Homo sapiens: one gene and its partners. The protein of the gene in region 4 purifies or fractionates together with the protein of the main gene of each other region. This does not show direct contact. Each region holds a gene or a part of one and is shown on either strand. Other genes may lie near its edges.

What was found. The genes of interacting proteins can lie anywhere in the genome.
Region 1: the proteins of ASB4 (region 4) and HELLS purify together in Homo sapiens (co-immunoprecipitation; one large-scale study listed by IntAct). This does not show direct contact.
Region 2: the proteins of ASB4 (region 4) and MEX3D purify together in Homo sapiens (co-immunoprecipitation; one large-scale study listed by IntAct). This does not show direct contact.
Region 3: the proteins of ASB4 (region 4) and IQSEC1 purify together in Homo sapiens (affinity purification with mass spectrometry; one large-scale study listed by BioGRID and IntAct). This does not show direct contact.

Annotation. Positions count from the first base shown.
Region 1 is NC_000010.11:94,594,288-94,597,787, reverse strand, and holds part of HELLS (lymphoid-specific helicase), read right to left. Parts: intron 3,094-3,500; coding exon 2,934-3,093; intron 929-2,933; coding exon 832-928; intron 754-831; coding exon 677-753; intron 1-676. UniProt on the Homo sapiens protein: Plays an essential role in normal development and survival. Involved in regulation of the expansion or survival of lymphoid cells. Required for de novo or maintenance DNA methylation. May control silencing of the imprinted CDKN1C gene through DNA methylation.
Region 2 is NC_000019.10:1,561,826-1,565,325, forward strand, and holds part of MEX3D (RNA-binding protein MEX3D), read right to left. Parts: intron 1-3,500.
Region 3 is NC_000003.12:13,066,930-13,070,429, reverse strand, and holds part of IQSEC1 (IQ motif and SEC7 domain-containing protein 1), read left to right. Parts: intron 1-3,500. UniProt on the Homo sapiens protein: Guanine nucleotide exchange factor for ARF1 and ARF6. Guanine nucleotide exchange factor activity is enhanced by lipid binding. Accelerates GTP binding by ARFs of all three classes.
Region 4 is NC_000007.14:95,527,443-95,530,942, reverse strand, and holds part of ASB4 (ankyrin repeat and SOCS box protein 4), read right to left. Parts: intron 3,131-3,500; coding exon 2,640-3,130; coding exon of another isoform or gene 2,568-2,639; exon of another isoform or gene 2,142-2,567; intron 1-2,141.

The sequences.
Region 1 (3,500 bases), on a different chromosome or scaffold from region 4:
GCTGGGGTGGGCACAACACCTGAAATCAGGAGTTCAAGACCAGCCTGGCCAACATGGCGAAACCCTGTCTCTACTAAAGATACAAAAATTAGCCAGGTGTGGTGGCAGGCGACTGTAATACTAGCTACTAGGGAGGCTGAGGCAGGAGAATCCCTTGAACCCAGGAGGCTGAGGTTGCAGTGAGCTGAGATCGTGTCAGCGCACTCCAGCCTGGGCGACAGGGCAAGACTCTGTCTCCAAAAAAATAAAATAAAATAAAATAAATCATCGTGTTAAGTAAAGGATGAAGGCTGACAAGACACTTTATAACATTATCTTGATTAATCTTAGCTCACTGGAAATAAGAAATCCAGATACGATGTGCCTCCTGGTATGACGAAAAATATGAGAACAAAGCACTGGTATTCTTAACTAAGACAGGAACTTGAATATATTCATTTACAAGTGTTATTTACCAGTTTACAGAAAATATCTGAATTATGGAAGAAGTTAAAGATAATGACATTTATGGGCAAAATGTCATGTCTGAGATTTGATTTTAATACTCTAAGAAGAAAAATGACAATAAAACAAGATTGGATACATGTGGCTGAATGAATTGCACAAGGGGTTCATTACATTATGCTAATTAAGTGTATGTTTCGAAGCTTCCATTAAAAAAAAGCATAATACTTACCAATAAGATCACTTCGATCTAACAACAACTCTAGATCTTTATCACTAATGACCTTCTCTCTTGATCCTTTTATTTCCCTATAGAAAACAAAATATTCAAGTCTATGTGAATAATTCAAAGCTACAAATTAAATCTTTCTAAAATTAAAAACTCACCTTTCATAATCTCTAGATTTTAATAATTCCATTAATTCCTTAGGATCTAAGAAATTCTTAGACAGATTTAATCCAGACTGACCACCTTTGAAATGATCTAAAAAAAATGAGAAATTAAAAACATTAAAATTCCTTTTAAAACTACAATACAACATATTACAAACCAATCACAATGGCTTGCATTAAGAAGGACGGCAAAAAAAAGTGTTGATAAAAAATAAAAGCAAATGAAGCTCTCAGGCTTCGCTGGTAGGACTGGAAAATGATATGTCCACTTTGGAAAAGGCTGGTAGTTTCCAGTAGTTAAACACGCACCCTCCCTAAGATCAAGGACCAAAAAATGCATTATGTCCACAAAGACTTGTACAGGACCAACTTATTCATAATAACCAGAATCTAGAAATAATTTAAATGTCGACCAACAGGAGAATGGAAAAAACAAACTATTCACCAATTAAAAGAAAAAAATTCTACTAAAAACAACACAGATGACTCTGTGTTGAAAAAATATATTCAACAAAATAGCTAAACAGAAAAAAGACTCATCAGTGTGACAAAAATCAGAATACTGGATGCTTCCTAGTGATGGTAAGGGGAGCATAGGAATTACTGGAAAGGGTGAACAAAGAAAATTTCTTGGATGATGAAAATGCTACCTTGATCTCGATGATAGTTACATAGGAGTACATAAATCTGGTCAAACTTCATTAACCTGTACATTTAAGATCTGTGCATTTTGCTGTATGTATGTAATAACTCAACTGAAAAATGTCAGCATTTAAAAAAATCCCTTCAAAATTTTCTACAAAATTAATCTACTAAAAAATCGAAAATAGGGCTGAGCACAGTGGCTCACACCTATAAGCCCAACACTTGAAGAGGCTAAGGCAGGAGGATCACTTGAGTCCAGGTGTTCGAGAACAACCTGGGTAAAAAAGTTAAATGGTCTCTTAAAAAAAAATTATGCTTTTTCCCCAATGCAAGTTCCAATTACAATCTAAATGTTTCACCAAATTAATTTTGTCTAAACCTTAATACACTCTTACCTCAAAACCCAGAGAAAGTATTTACAAGTGGAAAAGGAGTATAAAATAAATTATTAGTGATTTCCAACATTACTTTTCACATTAACATTATCATGTTCCCATTTCTCTAGGGCTTGATGATTTACATAAATGATTTTCAACATTTCTTCAGGTAGCTATCAAGCCATTTATTCAAAGAAAATTTTATGGTGAATGGATAGAAGTATAACTTCTCTAAGGAATCTCAGGAACAAAACTTTTTCACCTATGTCAGTTCCCCACCTCCTCAGAATTTTTTCTAGATTAAAAAGCATTGTTGAGACCCATCTGGTTATGATAAGGAAATGAAAAAGGAAAAAAAAGTGTCCAAAACTATAAAAAGGGCATTCTGCAGTGAAATATTCTGTGAAACAGTGGGTTCAATAAATAAATAGATTTTTTATAACACTTAAATACACTTAATATTTTAATACATGGAACTTGCAAAATATTTATCTTAAAACTTTTAGCAAGCCAATCTCTTATCAGGAACATGTAGTTATCCTTGACCCCTTTTCTCTGCCCATCTGCTCTTCATCTACATATCTACATACTCGCTAACATTCTTTCTTTTATGTCTATGGTGACCAACTTAGTTTAGGCTCCCAAATTCCCCACTGCTTATTTAAATCCTGTCATATCAGGCTGTTAATATTTTTTTTTTTGAGACAGAGTCTTGTTCTGTTACCCAGGCTAGAGTGCAGTGGCACGATCTCGGCTCACTGCAACCTCCTCCTCCCGGGTTCAAGCGATTCTCCTGCCTCAGCTTCCTGAGTAGCTGGGATTACAGGCGCCCGCCACCGAGCCCAGCTAATTTTTGTATTGTTAGTAGAGACGCGGTTTCACCATCTTGGCCAGCCTGGTCTCGAACTCCTGACCTCGTGATCCACTCACCTTGGCATCCCAAAGTACTAGGATTACAGGTGTGAGACACAGAACTCGGCCCAGGCTGTAATATTTTATAAACAAAATAAAAACAAAATCCACAACACACAATGCACAATTTAAACAATAAAGCACTACATAAGTGTTATTTACTTTTATGGATGATCAACTTTTCCAGTTTCCTTTTAGCAGCTGCTCTTTCCACAATTTTCTGATCGATAGTATTTGCTGTAACAAGGCGATAAACAACAACTGGCTTTGTCTGACCAATTCTATGACATCTATCCTGGGCCTGAAGATCCGACTGGGGGTTCTTAAAGTTAAAAAGAAAAATAATATTTAACGGTATTAGGTTAAAATTAACATAAACTCATGTGGATAAAGTCAACATGAATGATCTAGCCAGGAACTTTTAAATAGTGGTGTCTTAATTTAAACTTCCAGAGTGGCTTCATAGACAAAATTATCATTCCACAGATCCTTGACAATATTAACAAAAAAGTTTAAATACCCTAAAGAAAACATTTCAGGATGGGCACGATGACTCACTCCTATAATCTCAGCATTTTGGGAAGCCAAGGCAGGAGGATCATATGAGGATACAAGACCAGCGTGGGCAAACAGTGAGACGTGGTCTCACTAATTTTTACATTTTTTGTGGGCATGGTAGCACACCCATAGACCCAGCTACTTGAGAGAATGAGGTGGGAGGATCACTTG
Region 2 (3,500 bases), on a different chromosome or scaffold from region 4:
CTGCAGAGACAGGGTCTTATTATGTTGCCCAGGCTGGTCTGGAACTCTTGGGCTCAGGTGATCCTCCCATCTCAGCCTCCCAAAGTGCTAGGATTACAGGTGTGAGCCACCATATCCGGCCTCTACAAAAAATTTTTAAAAATTAGCCAGGTGTGGCCGGGCACGGTGGCTCACACCTGTAATCCCAGCACTTTGGGAGGCCAAAATGGGTGGATCACGAGGTCAGGAGATCAAGACCATCCTAGCTAACACGGTGAAACCCCGTCTCTACTAAAAATACAAAAAATTAGCCGGGTGTGGTGGTGGGCGCCTGTAGTCCCAGCTACTTGGGAGGCTGAGGCAGAAGAATGGCGTGAACCTGGGAGATGGAGGTTGCAGTGAGCTGAGATCGCGCCACTGCACTCTAGCCTGGGCGACAGAGTGAGACTCCGTCTCAAAAAAAAAAAAAAATTAGCCAGGTGTGGACCGGGCACAGTGGATCACGAGGTCAGGAGTTCGAGACCAGACTGACCAACATGGTGAAACCCCATCTCCACTAAAAATACAAAAATTAGCCGGGCGTGGTGGCGGGCGCCTGTAATCCCAGTTACTCGGGAGGCTGAGGCAGGAGAATCGCTTGAACCCGGGAGGCAGAGCTTGCAGTGAGCCGAGATTGCACCACTGCACTCCAGCCTGGGCGACAGAGTGAGACTCCGCCTCAAAAGAAAAGAAAAGAAAAGAAAATTAGCTGGGTGTGTTGGTGCGCACCTGTGGTCCCAGCTACTTGGGAGGCAGAGGTGGGAGGATCGTCTGAGCCCAGGAGGTTGAGGCTGCAGTGAGCTACAATCACACCACTGCACTCAGGACAGAGCAACAGAACCAGACCCTGTCTCAAAAACAACAAAACAAAACAACAACAACAAGAAACCGCTAGGCGTGGTGACTCACACCTGTAATCCCAGCACTTTGGGAGGTGGAGGCAGGCGGATGACCTGAGGTCAGGAGTTCGAGACCGGCCTGGCCAACATGGCGAAACCCCGTCTCTACTAAAAATACAAAAATGAGCCTGGCGTGGTGGTGGCAGATACCTGTAATCCCAGCTACTCGGGAGGCTGAGGTGAAAGAACTGCTTGAACCTGGGAGGTGGAGGCTGCAGTGAGCCGAGACTGAGCCACTGTACTCCAGCCTGGGCGACAAGAGCAAGACCCTGTCTCAAAATGAAAAGAAAAAAACCTCTCGGGGAATGAAGGGAACATGTACACTGTACTAACGCCAGAACTCTCAGTTGGGTCTGCAGTGTGGAGGTTTCCTAGCAGAGCCTTTCTTCCTAGGGCTCTGCAGTGTATGGACAGGAAAACCATGGCATGGTCCCCACCAACACCCCAGCACTGTCCCCAGCTGTCGGGAAAACCTGGGGCCTGCGGGGATGGGAGGAGAAGAGGAGCCTCTGGGGCTGCAGCCAGGAACAAGGGACAGGAGGGGAGACAGTGAGCCAGGGGTCGCCCCCAGCTGAGGGGAACAACCTAAAATCACTAGCCTTAGCCTGTGCCGACAGCAGAGAGAGCGAGCCCTGAGCAGCTTCCAGTCCAGGCCCTGCCTTCAACATCACTCACTCATTCATTCATTCATTAGCCACAGAACACCTTCTGTGTACAGGCCCTGGCAAGACACTGAAGACCCAACCATGACCAAGCACCTGCCCTGGTTCCTGTCCCTGGGAACATGCAGGGGGAGAGGCTGCCACGGAGCACAGATTCACCCAGGGTGCCTGGCAAGCGGGGTGAGAAAGGAGGGTACATGTTGGGGTCTCAGCAGGAGCAGGGCCGGAGGTCCCCTAGAGCACCTTTGCTGGCCGGCTGGAGGGAGACGCCTGTGCTTTTGGGTCTCCACTTTGCCTGTCTCCCAGACAGGGCTGCCTCCCCTCACCCCCAGCCCTCAAGCTTTGGAATCTGAAATTTTCTTTGCTGACCCACCAGAGAAACTGGGTTTGAATCCCAGCCCATGATTTTTGTTTTGTTTTGGAGACAGGGTCTTGCTTTGTTGCCTAGACTGGAGAGCGGTGACAAGATCATAGCTCACTGCAGCCTCGACCGCCCAGGCTCAAGTAATCCTCCTGCCTCAGCCTCCAGAGTAGCTGGGGCTGCAGGAGTGTGCCACCATGCCTAATTTTTGTATTTTTTTTTTTGTAGAGACAGGGTTTCGCCATGTTGGCCGGGCTGGTCTCGATTCCTAGGCTCGAGGGATCCTCCTGCCTCAGCCTCTCTGAGTGCTGCTATCCCCTCAGTTTTTACCTATTCTTTACCTCTTGCAGCCTCTGCCTCCCCATCTGTGACCTGGGAGCTGCAGGACCTTTCCTGGGGCACATTATGGGCCTCAGTGAGATGGGGCAGGTCAAGTCTGGCATAGGCTTAGCACACAGTAGACCCTCAATAAAGATCTAGCCAATGGCCAGGCGCAGTGGCTCACACCTGTAGTCCCAGCACTCTGGGAGGCTGAGGTGGGTGGATCACCTGAGGTCAGGAGTGTGAGACCAGCCTGGCCAACATGGCGAAACCCCGTCTCTACTGAAAATACAAAAACCAGCTGGGCATAGTGGCACGTGCCTGTAATCCCACATACTAGGGGGGCTGAGGCAGGAGGATCGCTTGAACCTGGGAGGTGGAGCTTGCAGTGAACCGGGATCGTGCCATTGCACTCCAGCCTGGGCAACAGAGCGAGACTCCATCCCAAAAAAAAAAAAAAAAAAAGATATAGCAAATGAATGAACTGGAGCCTCCAGCAGATGGGTGGGAACTCAGAGGGTTTGAATGACCACAGTCTGCCCAGAAAGCACTCGGACCCCCTCTAGGATCAAGAGAACTGAAGCTCAGAGAACAGCACGTAGCTACTGGGGAGAGGGCTGGTGCCAGGCCTGTGTGACTCTTGTCTAGGTGGGGAGGCCGGACAGGTGCACCCTTCCTGGCCTCCAGGGAAGGGGTAACCTTGGAGCTTGGGTTTGACAGAGAAGCATGAGAAGTTCAGAGAGCCCCAGGGTGGAGAGGAAGGTGAGTAAAGGGGCAGGGCCGGGGCACAAAGGACATTGAAAGGTATGCTTGAGAACGGGGTGGGTGGGAGAAGCTGGGAGCCACAGATGGTTCTACAGTGTGGAAGAAGTACAGACTACCGAAGCTGTGGAAGACGTAAGGACTACTGAAGCTGCCAACCTGTCCTGGCATCCACAGTTGCATCCCTGGCAACGCGCACTCCACTTATGGGGTGGCCACTGTGTGTGACCTGGAGCTGGGATTAAAACCAGCAACTTGGGTCCAGGCATAGTGGCTCACACCTGTAGGAACCCCAGCACTTTGGGTGGCTGAGGATCGCTTGAGGCCAGGAGTTCAAGACCAGCCTGAGCAACAGAGCAAGACCCTGTCTCTACAAGAAAAACTTTATAATAAAAACAAATAAATAAAACTGGCCGTGCGCAGTGGCTCACGCCTGTAATCTCAGCACTTTGGGAGGTGGAGGTGGGCGGATCACTT
Region 3 (3,500 bases), on a different chromosome or scaffold from region 4:
ACTTTCCCAACAGTTGCACTGTAGCCACTATCAGAGCTGCCCAACTTGATTGCAAAGCGTTCTCATGCTTAGTTGCCTCATGGGGTCTCACCAACTGCTGTAAAATGTGATACTGTCGATCCCGTTTTACAGAAGAGGAAACTGAGGCTCAGAGAGGGGAAGGAACTTGACTGGGGTCACACAGCTGTTTCCTGCCGTACATTTGGCAGTGGTGTCCCTTCCCCAGCATGCCACATGTCAAATCGGGACAGACTTGCTCCAGCGGCCCTGTGCATGGCACAGCCAGGCTATCCTCAGCCTAGTGGAGCCCTGCCGGCGGGCCCCCACCCCCACCCCACTGTCCTCACTCCCTAGCCTCCATTTTCGCCACTTCCACTCTCTGGGCCCCTGGTGTGCACCCAAGGGAGCTTTATGGAATCGAGACTCTGTCCCGGTCAGGGCTCAGTCCATCGTGAAGGTGGCACACTGGATGGGATAAAGGATGACAACAAAAGCAGGAGAAGATTTCTTAACCCAATGGGGGAACATCAGGAGGCTTCCAAGAATCAGACCCTGAATCAAACTTGCTAACACCTGAGGTCATTGCTGTACTGGCAGCTTCATGAATGGTGTCTGAATGAAGGATGGCCCTCAATTCTGTAACTACAGCATCCTTTTCATCATCTCTGCAAGGGGCCCCTCTGTCCTCATGGGCATGTCACATCCTGTCACTTGAACACAGGAAGTGAGGCTGTGAGGAGTTTGTGGTGTGTGAGATGTGGGCTGCTTGGCCAGGCCAGTGGAGCACTCGCCTACCCATGCCTGTTCAATCATTCATTCACTGCCTGGAACTGTCCCGACCCCTCTCTTCCTTCTGTTTGGGGGACATGATGACCTGCCGGCCCCCGCAGGAGGCAGTGGTCTCCCTCTGGTGGGATGCCCTGACCTGCTGCTTGCAGTGGGGCCTTCATGAAGGAAGCGAAGCCCTGGTGGGTCTCCCCTAGACAGAAGAAGGGACACTGGTGGGACTGGGCCTGGAACATTCCACACACACACACACCTCCAAGAAACTTGTGCATTGAGCCTTCACCATTATCACCTTGGCTGGGTCAGTTCTGCAGGCACAGTTATCAGCATCTGCTGGACAGTGGGCCTGGGCTGGATGCCAGGGAAGAGCAGCCCCAGCCCACCGAGAGAGATGCAGGGAGGGAACCGGAGGCCCAGTCTTCACTCAAGCACGTGTGATGACCGGTAGCCTTTCTTGCCATGCAGTGATCACTATTAAAAATGGTTATTATGAATGACCCACACAGCACTGGGCTATTTTCCAAGAATGCTGTAGCATCTATCCACCCTTTACAGCCCCAGGAAGCCACTGGGCAGGTCCTGGTTATAACTCAGAAAGACTGGGATATGCAGCCAAGGCCGCATAACCAGGCCTGGGCCTTCACTTCCCTGCCTTCAGCTAGTGTTCATGGTGCACCTGCTGTATGTCCAGCTCAGTGCTGGGAACCACTGAGAGGGTGCTGCTCTCAGGGGATACTGCAGGGGAGAAGGACACAGAGAAATGAAGAAGATAGAGAGCCCAATGGGAATGGATTGAGTGAACTGTGTGGCCACTCAGGAAGTGAGGAGGGCTTCCTGGAGGAGGTGACCTTTGAACAGAAATCTAAATGATTAGGAGGAACTATCCAGGAGAAGAGTGGGGGCCCCGGGTGCAGGGGACAGCAAGTGCAGAGGCCCTGGTGAGGGCATGCTTGACAGGATTGGGCCACAGAGGGAGGATGGTGTTGCTGGAGCAGAGTGGACCAAGAAGAGAGGTAAAGGGGCTGGGGCTGTTCATGGAGGCCCTGGAGTAAAGAGTCACATCGTCATGCTGGAAGCTAAAGATATGAAGAAAAGACTGGGGGTTAAAGAGGTTGGGGAACTGCATTGGGGCCTCCCAACCATGAGGGGGTGTCATGAGCCTGGGGCCTGAAAATTCAGAGGCCTGGCCACTGCCTCTGCCCCTTTGCAAGGCCAGGGCCCAGGCCTGCTCCCCGTTGTATACCCAAAGCTGGCATGGCCTGGCATGATGTTGGGACTTAGAGACCCTGTCTGGGGTGAATTTTAGAGACTGAGAGGAACAGACTTTTCTGGTAGTTGCTGGACAGGCAGGGCAACAAGTAGCGTCTGCTTAGGCAAGCACCTACCTCTGACCCACCTGCCACCATCTTCCACCAAAGGATCCGTGAAGGACAGGTCCGACATCCACATCCTCCCTGGGCCTCAGAGGAAGCGTAAGGCCTGGATTGGCCCCAGCCCCGGGGCAGGACCCTGCTGGGCCTTGGTCAGCCCATGGTCAGCATCTTTTCCCAAGTGCCCCAAGCACAGGCACTGGGCCTAAGCCTCCTGCTCTATGTGGTGGGGCTGATACTCCCCTTCCAGGGTTTGCCTGCGGGCCAGCAAGCAGGCTGGGCCCCAAGCTCAACAAGTGTCACGCCATCCTTGTCCCTCCCTGGAGGCCCTTTGTTGAAGCCCCCCAAGGCCCCCTGTGCCCCTAAAGGACCTGGCACCATCTCCTCAGGGCCCTGGCCTGCCTCCTTGCACTGACTCACTTGGTCTTTAAGAATAACAACAAAAGTGCCTTATCTTGTTGAATCCCACAACTCTGGCAGGGTGGTTGTGTGCCATCCTGTTTTCCAGGGAAGTGCCTTGCTCAGGGTCACAGCCAGTGAGTCTGCCTGACTCCAGACCCTGCTCCTCCCCAGCCAGATCTGTGTGCCCTTGTGGGTGGGGCCAGTGGGCACCCAGTGCACAGAGATGGGATGAGGAAGGGAAGGAGGGTGGTCAGGGGGCCCAGGTGTTGGGGGACCTGACGCCTTACCCTGAGCAGGTTCCAGATCTCTTGGCCGCAAGGCTCTGTCCCTCCCCACCCCTTCCCCACTGCATGCACTACCTGGAATGTGTTGGTCACTGCCACTGTGGCATGGCTGCCCCCAGCCTGCTTGTCCTGGGTGCTGAGGGTACTTGTCCCACAGTGGCTGGGAGCCCCCCACCCAATGCCTGTGGACCAGACCAGTTTTGTCACCACCAGTGGGGGCTTAGGAGGCGTTGCTCCTGGGTGCTGGCTAAGCTGCTCCCAGGCTTACCTTAGAGCCTGCTGCTTTCCCCCAAAAGCCTACTGACGACACAGCCCCCGTCTGCCCTTCCCGCTCTTTCCAGCCTGTTGGATGGCTCCTGTTCTCTCAAATCTCACTCTTACCCCCAGGAGGCTCCCTGCAGGCAGAGTGGATGAAAATATCCTGCCCCTTGGTCTCTGAGGCCCTGGCCCACCTGGGGCCTTACAGAGCAGGACAAGGAGGCTCCACTCCAGCTCTGTCCCTGCCTCACTATGTGACCCTGGGCAGGCTGCTTGCCCTCTCTGGGCCTCTGACCTCATCTGGAAAGTTCCTGGTTATGCTGCGACACACAGGGGACTGGGAGTGGGAGGAGTGGTGTCTGCCAGGCACAGCAGCTCCAGGCATGCTGGCTCATTCACA
Region 4 (3,500 bases):
CAAGTTTGACCCCAAAGTCCATGATTCTCACCACCTTCACTATTCCACTGTGAATCTAAGTTACCCTCATCTCTCATCTAAATTATTGCAAATTTGCCAGCCCCCCACTCAGAGTTATTCTCTGAAAGGCAGTCAAAAGGACCATTTTAGAATATAAATCAGACTTTTATTTTTCTCAACTCAAAATCTTTCAGTGACTTCCTCTCCCATGCAGAGTATAACACCAAGAACATTCCCACAGCTTACAAGGCGACATATATGGTCTGCAAACAACCCACATATATACCTCTTGGATTTATCTTCCCCTTGCTCACTCCACTTCAGCCACTGAGGCTTCCTTGCTCTCCCTCAAACATGCTTAGCCCTCTCCTACCTCAGGACCCTTGCACCTGCTTTTCCTTAGGCCTGGAATGCTCTCCCCACCTCCCCATCAGGTATTTGCATGGCTTGTTCCTCCACATCCTTATTTTTTCTTTTGGAGACAGAGTCTCGCTCTGTCACCCAGGGTGAAGTGCAGTGGCACAATCTCGGCTCACTGCAACCTCTGCCTCCCGGGTTCAAGCCATTCTCCTGCCTCAGCCTCCCAAGTAGCTGGGACTACAGGCGCACGCCACAACACCCAGCTAATTTTTTGTATTTTATTAGAGACAGGGTTTCACCGTGTTGCCCAGGCTGTCTGTCCTTGAACTCCTGAACTCAAGCAATCCGCCCGCCTCAGCCTCCCAAAGTGCTAGGATTACAGGGGTGAGCCACTGCACCCAGCCCCCCACATCCTTATTTTTTCTAATCAACTTAAAGTAGCACACATAATCTGGCATTCTCTTTTTTTTTTTTTTTGCCCTGCTTTTTCTCCATAGCACCTAACATATCAGAGTATATTTATTTGGTTGTTGTTTTGTTTGTTTCCTGTCTCCCACTAGAAAGTATCTTTCATGAAGGCCTTTGGTTCATTGCTCTACCTCCAGCAAATAGAACAGTACCTGACACTTCGGAGGTGTTAAGTAAATATTTGTTAAATAAACAAATGAGTGAACTTGACACTTACTCTGTGTGACTTTATGAAAATATATTAACACTATTAGCTTTAGCTTAGTCACCTTTTAAATGTGAGTAATGCCAGTGCCCACCTCAGAGTCCATTATAAAAATAAAATGAAATAGTCTGTATAAAACCTATTTAGAGCTCAACACAGGACAGTTACTGTAACATTATTCTTATTCTATTCCTCATCTTAATCATTTGTAGTTCCCTAAAAAACTTTTGGAAAATTCATGACATTCTGGGCTTTACATATAATTTTTTAAAAAAGAATTAGTTAATCTTCCATTAGCATCCTGATAACCAAGAGAAAATTCCTATTGAGATCACAGGATTGCTGAACCCATCAAATCTTCATTTGAAAGTTCTCTGGTTTGTCCATCTGGAATCTGCCCTGACTGAAGGCACTACCCTTAAATTCTCTAGTAGAACTTTTCTTCTAACTAAGCCTCACACTGCAGGACTTCAGACAAGTCCCTGACATTTTACCCAGGTAAGACGTAGAACTTAAGCTGTGAATTCAGAAAAACATCTGTTACTTTGCTTTCTGTGGCCTAATTAGTCAGTTGTTGTATACTTCAAACTCTTCTTGTTGTTAATTAAATTTTTAGAGCAAGGGGGAAACCTAAGTATAGTATTATTTGATTTATTTTCAGGTAAAATGCATTTTGGCCTCCAAATTAATTACTAGCTATAAAACTATGCAAAATTCACTCTCTTCCATATTTCTGTAGCACTCATTATTCTTCTACCTTGTCATTTACCACAGCATATTAAAATTACCCCTTTATTTGCTTGTCTCATCTGCTAGATTCTAAGCTTCTTGAGGATACGTCCCATGTCTTAGTCATATCAATACTGGTAGCAACTGGTCCCTACCAGCCTGTTTGAGATTATGAATGTTGTTAAGAAAAACCGTGCAGTGTGATATCATAAGAGTAGATGCTGGAACCAAAGTATCTAAGGTTGAATCCTGGCACTGGCACTGTGGGAGCTCAGGTAAGCTACTTAACTGTGCCTCAGTTTCCTCCTCTGTCAAATAGGGACAATAATAATATATACCTCGTATGATTGTTGTAAGAATTAAATGAAGACATACAAAATGCTTATAACAGTGTGCTTATTTATTATACATAATAAATATAATTTTAGTACTTAATAAACGTTAGCTTTCATTAAACTGGAAAATCGGGTGGCCCTTTCATGGCTACAAGCTAATTTCAAAGCAGGCTGAGTCATCTTTAGATCAGTCATTCTGTTTAAAAGATGGCAAATGTATGCCTGTCTAACACTATTCACCTTTCTGGCAGACTTACCTCAGTCCCTCAGGAAGCCACCAGTGCACTGGTGTTCACACAAGGCAAAACAAATTATTTGCTACTCTTTTTCTCATTCTAGCTCTCACACCCAATTTCAAGCAAACCTAGACTAGGATGAGATGAGGAGACAGCTAGGATTAGGTATGTAATGGAAGGTCAAAGAGGATCAGAGGTAGTTAGCCCAGGACTCAAGCCTCAAGCAAGCTTGAGTTACTTGGAGATTTCAGACAAGGCTGCCATTTGAATCTTCCTCAACCTGCTGACCACTGGGCAGAGCCTCACCTTATGGAACTGTGGAGGGTATATTCGGGCAGCCCCATGGTTCAACAGGAGCTGGTAGCAGATCTCAGGCTGGGCAGCAGGGCGCACGGAGGTGACCTTCAGCACGTACTGGATGGCAGCACAGCCGTTGATATCCATGAGATTGGCTTCGGCGCCAGCTTCCAGCATCATGTGCATGAGCACGTGGTCACAGTTCCAGGCTGCCTTGTGGAGGGGAGATTTAAAGTCGTCATCTCGGGCATTGACTTCGGCTTTGTAGTCAAGCAGCATGCGGCAGACCAGGTGGTGCTCCGTGCTGTACTCCTGCTCCTTAAAGCGGAGGGCCCAGTAGGCGGCGATGGCCAGGGGGGTCTCCATGTGGGCATTCACGCTGTCCACTATGGCCCCGTGTTCCACGTAGAAGGCCACCAGCTCCGAAAGGCCGAAGTGGGCAGCCGTGTGCAAGGGCGTCTCCTCATCTTGGTTGTTGGTCTTCATGTTCACATTCGCCCCTATAAAGGGAAATTGAGGAAGACAATTATTTAAACATGTTTTGTCATTATTCCTAAGGTTCATTAAACAAGACTTTTCTCACTGCTTCTCTTTTAACTTCTGACTGCCGTATATTATCCCCAACCCTCAACCCCTTTGCCCCCAGGCTCTCTTCCTGGGCCTCGTGGAAGCCATTCCCTTGAAGCAACAGTGCCATCTCCTGGACAACCAGCAAAGGTACCCAGGGGAGGAGAAGGAAGGATTTGTGCCAGAATGCTGGAGCGTTGCTGAATTTCACTTCTTACTCCCAGGTGGATTTGGAAATACCAAGAGATTTCTACAACTAAATCTTCTTAATCAACATAACAATGATATTTGCTAATATCATTA